Linked DNA regions of Homo sapiens: region 1 is linked to region 2. The links come from fine-mapping of genetic effects on gene expression. A gene starts in region 2. The other region holds a variant in brackets. All regions are shown on one strand. Distances are between the middles of the regions. Region 1 overlaps TTC7A (tetratricopeptide repeat domain 7A). Region 2 holds the start of MCFD2 (multiple coagulation factor deficiency 2, ER cargo receptor complex subunit).

Region 1 (5,000 bases), 41 kb after region 2:
ACAGGGACAGTGAGGCACAAAAGGAGTAGGTGATGCGCTGATCCACACAGTAGAGGGGATTGTTCCTCTGGTAAAGCGACCTCCCCCGTGGCACCCTCCCACTGGGCAAGGGGTTCCGTTCCCTGACTGTTGTACTGATAGACCAAGAATATTTCACATTCAAATGCATGGGCCCCACAGAGTGCAGTGGACTCTTAATGTTGCCAAGTAAGGACATTAAGAAGCAAAAAATAGCAGCAAAATGATACCATCTTCTGCTCTTACTGTGCTATAACAGAAAAACAGTTTAGCATTGAAAGGGCAAGGTAGATATCCTTTCAGAACTAAGAGCCTTTTTTTTTTTTTTTTTTTTGAGACAACGGAGTCTCGCTCTGTCACCCAGGCTGGAGTACAGTGGCACGATCTTGGCTCACTGCAACCTCCGCCTCCCGGGTTCAAGCGATTCTTCTGCCTCAGCCTCCCAAGTAGCTAGGATTACAGGCGCCCACCACCACGCCCGGATAATTTTTGTATTTTTAGTAGAGACGGGTTTTACCATGTTGTCCAGGCTGGTCTCAAATTCCTGATCTTAGGTGATCTGCCTGCCTCGACCTCCCAAAGTGCTGGGATTACAGGCGTGAGCCACCGTACCCGGCCGAGCATTTTTTTAAATAGTGTAAATGTGGCTTTATAAAACATGCCCTGCATTGTCTAATTTTTCCCCAGCTTGGTGGAAGCTCTGTTGTAAACTGCCACTGGTCCTCCAGGAACCGCCACTAGCCACACCCCATCAGCATGCCTGAAATGTCCTTCTCTGCCTCACTGCCCTTGTCTCCATGTGCAGGATAATGATAAATACGCATACCCTGTATTTATCTTGCTCTTTTCCAAAGAAAAGTTCAAAGCTCTTTTCTGGACTTTGCCCTATTAATGCCTTCAGCATCGCTGTGATAGGCAGTGAGGAGTAGGTGTTATTATCTCTCCCTCACCCACGAGGAAGACGCAGCCCGAGCAGGGAGGAAATGAGCCCGTGGCTTGAGACCAGTGCAGGGAACGCAGAGTCACTGCCCAGCTTGGAAGGACTGTGGGCCACATACCTCTGGGATGTGTCATCTGTGGCCCTGGCCCAGGGAGTGGATGGCCTATCTGGGAAGACTAGCAAATCCCCTCAAAAGATTCAGCTTTGGAGAGTTAATTAATAGAGAGAGCAGGTCAGGCGTGCAGAGGCTGAATGGGCCCATTGGTAGAGGCATTGGAGGAGTTCAGCTGAAGGGAGCTCCCTGGTAGTCAAGGAGGCTTTCAGGAGAAGGTGGGCCTGAGCAAGGCCCCAAAGGATAGAAGAGGACCTGGTTAGGCCAGGGGGAAGGGGACCTGAGGAAGCACAGGCAAAAGAGGAATGTGGATTTACAAAGGCCAGAAGGACCAGTTGGGAAGGTGAATTTGGCTTCCCCAGAGCCTGTCTGTGCCACGCTTCATTTCTCTTGGCTTCTGAGAGGGCAGTAGATGGTAAGGAGTGCTGGAGGCTTGCCCTGGGGTCACAGGGACCCCAGACTCTTACCTCCCTACAGGGAGACAGGGGTAGCACCTTCCTGCCAGTGACAAATGCCAGGTGTGGGATGAGAGCTGCATCTTCGGGGAGTTTTATGGACAGATTGGTGCCTGTGTGGCGGGAGCAGTGCCCAGGGCCTGGCCCATAGGCATTGTGAGCCAGCTGAGGACAGGATCAGAGGCAGGGGGCCAGAGCAAATGGCCTGCAGAGGCGGGAGGTTACAAGGAGAACTGGGGCCATGTCCAAGGTCAGAACTCACGTGCCAGGGTGGCACAGCCCAGGGCCAGCACAGCCTCCCTCAGGCAACAGCACAGGATCCCAAGCCACAGTAGGGGTGATCATGGCTGACAAGACCACTGCAGGCCCTAAGGGAGGCCCTGAGAGTTCCTCTGTGGGATGGAGATTGAGATGTAAGCAACTTTTGAAAAAGGAGGGGAAAGAAAACACGTTTAAATTCAGCCACTCTTGGCCTCCGTGATTCTGCACTTTGACCCATTTCTGATAGGAAGAGGATGGTGACGCAGCAGGCCCTCTCCTCCTCAATCTGTCCCTCTGCCACTGTAGGGGGAG[G/A]CATAAGCTTTAGGGTCCTCACAGGCTGTTTCTAAGGCCTTTCACCTAATTATGATTTGCATATACATGTACACAAGAGGACTCCCAAAATGAGAAGCCTGGGGCTCCACAAAACTTAACTCCATCTCTGACTCCCCACTTGTGTTTAGAATAAATGCCTGAGCTTCTGAGTGCCCCCTGGGGCTGCAGTCTTTGGGGGGATTCAGGAGAGGGAAGACAGGGCCTAGTCTGCAAGGTCTCTGGAGTCTTGCTGGGGGCATAAAACGCACACACATGAAACAATTAGGGACTCATAGGAGAATTTTATTGAGAACCACAATGTAGGCTGCAGACCATGGGTGAGAGCGGGGAGCTGTCGGCATGTGCTTGAGCATCAAAGAAGGCTTTCTGGAGGAGGAGGGGAGTTCTGAGCAAGGTCTGAGGCAAACAAGGTCCAGGTTCAGTGGGGGTGTTCACCCCAAGGTAACTTTGGGGCAGGCGCTGGTAACATGTCCTTGTCATTTCAGCCACAGTACATGTGTGAGGCCATGCTGATCCTGGGCAAACTGCATTACGTGGAGGGCTCATACCGAGATGCCATCAGCATGTACGCACGGGCCGGGATTGATGACATGTCCATGGAGAACAAGCCCCTGTATCAGATGCGGCTGCTGTCGGAGGCTTTTGTCATCAAAGGTAGCTGTGGGCACCAGCCTGGGCTCCCCTCCACTGTGTGCAGCTCGTTGCACTCTGACTCCCAGGGCCCTGCTGGGCTCGTGTCCAGATTCTTCACCCCTGGTAGTGCCCATGCCCTGGCACTGGTGTCTAAGGTGGATGCCGGTGGCAACCGGCCATGTTGACATTGCCTGGTGCCTGGGACGTTAGGAGACTCAGATTCTCGCCCTGGCTCTGTCAACAACAATTACCCTACTTTGTGTACCCTTGGGCAATCACCTCTTCACCTCCTTTGGCCTCAGTTTACTTGTTTGGAAGATACGGTTGTAATACCTGACCTCCCAGGGTTACCATGACCAAGAGTCATCAGCAGAATTGTGTAGCAAGGTTGAGAAAGGTTTACAAAGTATGACCTCTCACTGGCAGGCTGGCTCTGCTGACTGGCGCTGGCCCCAGAGCAGGTGCTGGATGCTGTAGGAGTCTGCCACTCCTCAGTTATTTGTCGGGCACCTGCTGTGAGTGGCCCAGGGAGCAGGGGCTGAGACCCAGTGATGAACAGGTCAGAACCAGTTCCTGGAGGAGCTCTTAGCCTTCCAGGGTCAAGGGGTGCTCTGGAGGGGATTTAGGGACATGGGTCAGTGATGTAGGAATTTTATGAGGGGGCTGTGGACAGCCCAGCTGGGGGAATCGTGCCATTTAACTGGACCCCAAATGTGTTCAATGTTAAAGTCATCCTACCCCAAACTTTGTGCTTCAGGCTCCTTCTTCCCTGGATCCCTGGCTGCGGGAGCCCCTCTGCCCAGCCTGCTGTCCGGAATCTTGGATGTTTGATCGTCTCCCTAGTGCAGCACAAACCAACCTCCAGAGAAAAGTCTAGAAAAGATGCCTGTGGCTCAGTGGGCATTTGGTGCCTGGCATTTGTAGACTATGTGACACACTCTATTATAGATAGGGACATTCTCACTATCTTGTGGGGAAACTGAGGCCCAGAGAGGATAACTTGCCCAAAGTTACCCAGATACATGGTGGAGCCAGGATGAGAACCTCCATGCTCTGACTCTGGCCTTGGAGTGTGAGTCCTCCAAGGCCCTGCAACACACACTCAGTTTCCCCTGTCTCCCCTGGGTCCCAGGAGGAGTGACTGTGACATCTGTGGAGGGCACACCCTCCTTGACTCTGGCTGGTGGGACTTCTGAGGGGGTTCGCCCACCCAAGATCCTTGGATCCCTTTTCTGTTGGGTCCACACCATGCCAGGAAACCTGGCAAGATGGTCACTGTGGGTGGTCTTCGTCCTTTGCTCTCTCATCCCCCGCTCTGCGCCTCTGGCACAGGCCAGTCTTGGGGGTGATCTGCATTTGGCATTTGGGTCTTTCGGGTCTCTTAGAAACCCCTTCAGCCATGGACGCCCTGAGCGGAACCCCCTTCCTCGGGCTTCCTTTCCGGGACTTTCTCCTGAGCCTGGCTCAGGATGGATTGCCCCCTGTCTCCTGCTCTCTCCTCTTTCCAGCATGCCTCCGGCTTCTTGGGGGAACACAGTCCCGGTGGTCAGAGGTCCTGCAGGGGAGGTAAGGAGACGGGCGCTGCCGGCGCGGGCTGCTTGGTCTCAGGCTGTGCTAGCTCCCGTTCCCCAGTGACTGCACATGGCCTCCCCTTTGCCTGCCTCCTCTCTGCCTGTCCTCCTCCCTGTCCTGCTGCAGTGACCACGCCTGCTGCCCGGCATGCTGAGGTTTGCCTGACCCTGTGTGTGCTTGAGACCATGCACGTGGCCACCAGGGTGTGCATGATGTTGATCTGCCTGGGTTTGGGGGATCCGGTGGGTCTTCCCATGCAGAGTAGAGGCCACACCCTTCGGGGGCTGAGGACGCTGGTCATTGGTCCTGACTCCGTCTGTGAGCATGAGGGTGGTGGCAGCAGGGGCCACAGAGTTCACAGAATGCTGATATTTATTCAGCCCCCCTCCATGCCAGGTAGGCCCTCGTTGAGCCCCCTCTGTAACCCTCTGAGCTGGTGTTCCCCTCATTCTATGTCGCGGATGAGGAGTTAAGGTTGGAAGAAGTGAGGTGACTCATGCGCGGATCTCACAGGAAGTGGCAGAGGCAGGATTTGAACCCAGGCAGCTGGAGCTTGTGATACTGTTGCTGAGAATCCTAGGATGAAAGGAATCAAGTGATCCAGGCCAAGCCCTCATGTTACAGTTGAGGAGACTGAGGCTGACAAAAAGGAAGCAGCTTACTCAGGACATCAGTT
Region 2 (5,500 bases):
TAATCTCAATACTTTGAGAGGCTGAGGCAAGTGAATCACTTGAGCCCAGGAGTTCAAGACCAGCCTGGACAACATGGTGAGACTCCCTCTCTAATTAGAAAAAGAGAGAGAGAGAGAGGAAGAAAGGAAAGAAGGCAGGCGAGGGAGGGAAAGATAGAAAACAGGGAATCTAACTGCCACCTAACAAATTAAACTGCTGACAGTCAAGAGAAAGCATAAGCAACTCCCTCTACCCAAATAACAGGTTGCATCATCCATGCTCTAACTACTTAGCTCAAGGCCATGGGCTAACAGCCTGAAGATAAGCCCCAGCTCACTGGCCTTCTTTAGGAAATTATAAAGGCCAGGCTGAAGAAAAACCCAACGGAGGAGAAATTTCTGCAAAGGGACTTCAGGGCACAACCCATACCTTGAGACAGCCCTCACAAGGCGCAGCCTCAGTCCTGGGAGGGCAGTGCTGGACCATCAGGAGCAGTGCGCCTCCCAGTGCCTTGGCTGTCACAGTGCTCCCCTCCTGCTCTGCCAGCCTCTTCCTGTACCACAGCCTCCGCTCCTACTGGTTCCATCTGTCCATCTCCAACTTCCTTCCAGGACAGGTTCAAATGTCACCTCAGGATTCTTCCAGCCAAGACCAATTGCTCTCTCATCCGACCTCAGTCTGTAGCCTCTCACACTCATTTGACCTGAACATACGATCACAGGTTGTTCTCCTTTTCCATTTTTCTCTTTTCCTCCCTCTCTGAGAGTCAGGACCCTCTCTCCTCTGGCTCTCATTTACCTTACTGATCTCTGCTGAGCTGACCTGGCTCATCGCTGAATCAGGGAAGTGAGTCTTGGCACCTAGGTGTATTGTTCCCTATCCCACAGCGGATCTAGCCTAAGCTGGAACTTCCTTTGGAGGCTTCCAGTGGTTTGACCTGGCCCAACCCTTTCTTCCTGGTGTGTCATCAGTCCTATCAGCACTAAGTTTGGGGCCAGCCTTCCTGCCAGCAGCTAGTAGCAGCTTCTCCCTCAAGGGGCCCTTGGTTAAGAATTCAAACCCAAAGCAGCCAAACTCACCAACATCCAGACATCCTGTACCCACAGCCAATGCCAAAGAAAAACTGACCAGTACTTTGTCACTTACCCCTGTCATGGTCCTGGAATGAAGGCAAGAAAATAACCAACTTCCTAAGCTAAAGAAACCTCTACACGGACTGAGGGTTGAGAATTGGTTCTGAAAAAGCAGGCATTTAATATTAATAACTTGATCTATTTGTTCATCTAGGGAGCCCAAGGAGCACCCATGCTGCATTTATACATTTAATGACCGTACTAACAGCACAAGGTACTGAAGATAGTACTATGACCTCGACAAACTCCTCTCACACAGATTACAACCTGGTAGAAAAGAGAGACCGGCAGGCAGACACCCATGGGGTACCACGAAATCCCCAACTGACACCTGAAATAACACATAAAGGATAAGAAGGATTATTTCAACCAAAGGACAGTGCCTCAGACATAGCGAACATACTGAAGGAACATGTAAGCCCAGAAGGAACTTGTTCTGATCTAAGAACCAAAAAAGATTCAGTATGGTTGAAGACACAGTACAGTCGAGACAAATGAATCTAAAGTTAAAGGAAGACAGGTCATGAAGGGCTTTGCAAGCCCCGTTCAAGAGCTTGGAAGAGCAATGAGAATCCACCAAAGGGTGATAAGGGAATGGGGGGACGCTTCTGGTCACATGATCAGATTTCTGTTTTAAGACCATGGCTGTAGCCTCTCTGTATAGAACAAACTACAGAGGATGAAGAAGAGATGCAGGGATCATCAGGAAGACACCGAGGTAGTCCAGAGAAGAAAAGGTGGCCTGAACTAGGTAGGGCAGGGGGATGGGACTGGAGAATGAACGTATCCAAGACAACTTTGCAAGGGATTCGATGTGGGTGGGTAAAGGAGTGAAGCAAGTGAGAATGATGCCCAATTCTGGCTTGGGCACCCGGGTGGATGGCCATGCCCAGAGAGGGAATACAACAGGAGATCAGCTTCCCCCGCCGGGCCCGACAGGACCTGTGGTCTCCCCGAGAGAGGGAACAAGGAGCAGAGGGAGAGTAAGGCTTCCGGCCCGCTGCTTTTGGGCCGGGCCAGGAGCAGTGTCCACCCGACACAGCTGGTCCCACAGGCCGATCCTCGGGCCCCTAGGGACCAGGGAAGGGGGCGGAGATCTGCCCAGTCGGCCCCGTCTGGCTCCAGAGCCCCCGGTGGGGCACAGGCTTCCGCCCCGGGAGACAGGCCGTGCTCCTAGCCGGTTAAGCGTCCCGAGACGGCCTGGGGGCCCAGCCCGCGCCCCCAGACTACTCCTGCCTCTCATCTTGAGCCCAAGCCTCCAGCCCACAGGAGAGGCGCCGGGATCCCGCCCGCTGCGGAGAGTGCGCTAGTTCACTCACCCTTACGGTCTCCGAAGCAGACGCGAAGCCCTCCAACGTGAGCCTCACCAGCCCCCGTCCCCAAAACGCTCTTCCTCGGCTTCGCCCCGCCCCCCCCCCCCCCCCGACCTGCCCTGCGCACGCGCGCTCCCTGCCGCCCGCCCATTGGCGCCGCCGGGCCCCTCCCGCTGGCGGCGGCGGGCTGTGAGGACGGCTCGCGTGAGTCCACGTGTAATCGGCCCGGGCCCAGCACTGGCGGGACTGACGCAGTTCTTCTACCTGCTTTCCCAAGGGCGACACTCGGCTCCACTCCAGTTGGGCCGCTGGACGCCCTAGGGGCCCGGCAGTTGCTAGGCAACGCCGGAAGCCCTCAGGAACGTAGTTCCACGGGCGACGTAGGATGGCGGATCCGGATGGGGCGGACCCCAAAGCTGGCTCCCAACTCCGCTCACCCCCTCCTATACAGGGCTCTTGGTTCAGGTCTCTTGGTTCGTCCTGCTGCAAGTTGGGAAGAAAGATAATAGGAATGCTAATTCCTTCTTGATGAAACGACCACAACACGCTGGAGCCGGCCTTGGACCCTACGTTTCAAGATTGGCCTGCTTCCAGCGTCTGCCAGCTCCACTGCACAAGCTGCGGCAGCCGCTGTCCCCGTTCGCTTCCACGGGAGTCCCAGCAAGACTATGCGACCCAGTTCAAATACCATCTTCCATGTACCGTTCGTGAAATCAGCAGCTTTTGACATTCAAGAGAGGACAGATTACTTAAAAACAGACTCATGAACAAATAGGGAAACGAATACATCATCCCTGTATCGAATTCATCCCTGTATAATCCTGCCCTTACACCTGTGCTCCTATACAAGATTAACATTCAGTAAGTATCCATTGACCTGATGGATAAATGAGTGTAGGACGGTCGTTTTGTTTTTTTGTTTTGTTTTGTTTTGTTTTGAGACGGAGTCTCGCTCTGTCCCAGGCTGGAGTGCAGTGGTGGGATCTCGGCTCACTGCAACCTCCGCCTCCCAGGTTCAAGCTCTTCTCCTACCTCAGCCTCCCGAGTAGCTGGGATTACAGGCGCGTGCCACCTTGCCCGGCTAATTTTTGTATTTTTAGTAGAGACGGGGTTTCACCGTGTTGGCCAGGCTGGTCTCTAACTGCTGACCTCTTGATCCTCCCGCCTCAGCCTCCCAAAGTGCTGGGATTACAGGCGTGAGCCACCACTCCCGGCAGGACGGTCGTTTTTTTTAAAGCCCTTCTCCCATTTCTGTCCATAAAGGTACATAATCGTTTTTCAAATGAGCCTGGGTCCGGACAGGAAAGACAAAGAAAGTGGCTAAGTAGTTAGATGCCTTGAAAGTTGCCTAACGCCACTGCCATTGACGGTCTCATTCCTTTTCCCACCTTCATCTGAGATTGAAATCTGCCACCCCATCCCAGAGAAAAATCCCATAATCCCTAATTTTTTTTTCTTTTTTTAAAGAAAAGAGTCTCCATGGTGCCCAGCTCGTCTCGAACTCCTGGGTTCAAGCAATCCTCCCACCACCTCCGCCTCCCAAAGTGCTGGGATTACAGGGGTGAGCCACCGCGCCGGGACAAAGAATCCCTAAGTTTTGAGGAAACCCTATTAATTCAAGACCCATTCTTCTTTCCTTACTCTGAACTTTGGATTAGTTTGATCTAGTTCCTCCTTCTACCCTGCATCTGCCATTCATCCATCTCTTCATCCATTCATCCACCCCTCCCTTTGTTCATTTATTCATTCAATAACATTTCTTGAATATCTTCTATGTACTAGGCGCTCTACTAGGAGCTACTAGAGATACAAATAAGACAAATGAAGTGTCAAGAAGCTGGTGTCTGGTAGATGGATAAAGTGTCCTCATTCTAGCCAGTGCTTTCATTTTTTTCCTATGGATGTTATCCTGTGTTATGTCTCTCTTGAATCTACAGTCACTCCCTCTCTACCAGATAATTCCCATCAACATATAAACTTGCTGTATTTTCTCCCCCACCATACCACTGAAACTGCAATCTCCATGCAAATCTAGTGGTCTCTTTGATCTCTTGTTTTTATTTTACTTGCCCTCTCAACACTGTTTTATCAAAGCCAACCACTCTCACTTAGAAACACTTTCTTCTCTTGTTTTCTGACACCACACACTCTGGGTCCTTCTGCTACCTCACTCATTATCCTTTCTTGGGCTTCTTAATTGGCTTCTCAATCTATAATTATCAAAGTGTCCAGGGTTCTGTTCTGAGTCACCTTCTCTATCCACCCTCCCTATGTGAGTTTACCTAGTCCTGTGCTTTAGATACCATTTATAAATAGATGACTCCAAAATATGTCTCTCTGACAATGACCTCTCTGTGTAATTCCTGGCTCCTGTAAATAACTGCCTACTTGATGTCTCCATATGAATGTCAGACTGGCATCTCAAACTTAATGTGTCCCCCCAAAATCTTGATTTTCACCCCCAAACCTGCACCTCTCTCAGTCTTGTGCATTTTAGTAAATGTCACTGGTACTCATTCTGTTGTTCAAGCTAAAATTCTACGAGCTGTTTTTGATTTATCTCATCCCTTTACCTTTAAATCCTTCAGCAAAGCCTGTTGATGCTATCAAAATGTATCCTGAGTCTTTGACTTCTTTCCACCTCCACTAAACCATCTAGTCCAGTAGTAGATGATGCTGCTGGACTACTTGAGAGAGAGCTTCCTAACTGACCGTCCTGCTTCCATTCTTGCCCTACTGTAGTCCATAAGTGAGAAGCCACCTTTGATTAAGCCATTTTATAGGTGGGTGTTCTGTAACTTGTAGCTGAACCCATTCCTAACAGGCAAATAATTTGGTACCAGAAGCAGGATGCTAAAAACAAGACACTAAAATATGGAATTGGCTAACTGGAGGTTAAGGTAGCCAGTGTTAAAAGACTGTATGTCAAACTGGAAAGTTGGTGACCCTTATAAGCCGTAGTGAAACTGTCACTTGCTGGACCTTGGATATAGGCCACATGCCAACCAATGCTATATTTTTGGAGAAATCTCACGAGCAATATGGAACATTAGTGAGTGTTGCCTTTTTTAGTA

The links. PIP is the estimated chance that this variant, and not a neighbour inherited with it, causes the effect. A credible set is the group of variants that fine-mapping cannot tell apart.
Region 1: its variant is the best candidate, but not a certain one, in a credible set for the expression of MCFD2 in pancreas (GTEx, PIP 0.86).

What each region holds. Positions count from the first base shown.
Region 1 is chr2:46,954,235-46,959,234 of GRCh38, forward strand. It overlaps TTC7A (tetratricopeptide repeat domain 7A), which reads left to right. Exons shown (of 20, transcript NM_020458.4): 3 at 2,605-2,773. Among named protein-coding and RNA genes, the nearest start is that of TTC7A, 16 kb to the left of the region's middle. RefSeq lists a silencer at 896-1,190 and an enhancer at 2,790-3,289. The variant G/A (reference allele first, on the strand shown) is at 2,099.
Region 2 is chr2:46,913,291-46,918,790 of GRCh38, forward strand. It overlaps MCFD2 (multiple coagulation factor deficiency 2, ER cargo receptor complex subunit), which reads right to left and starts at 2,516. Exons shown (of 4, transcript NM_139279.6): 1 at 2,433-2,516. It also overlaps a transcript of TTC7A not described here. RefSeq lists a silencer at 2,503-2,582 and an enhancer at 2,586-3,560.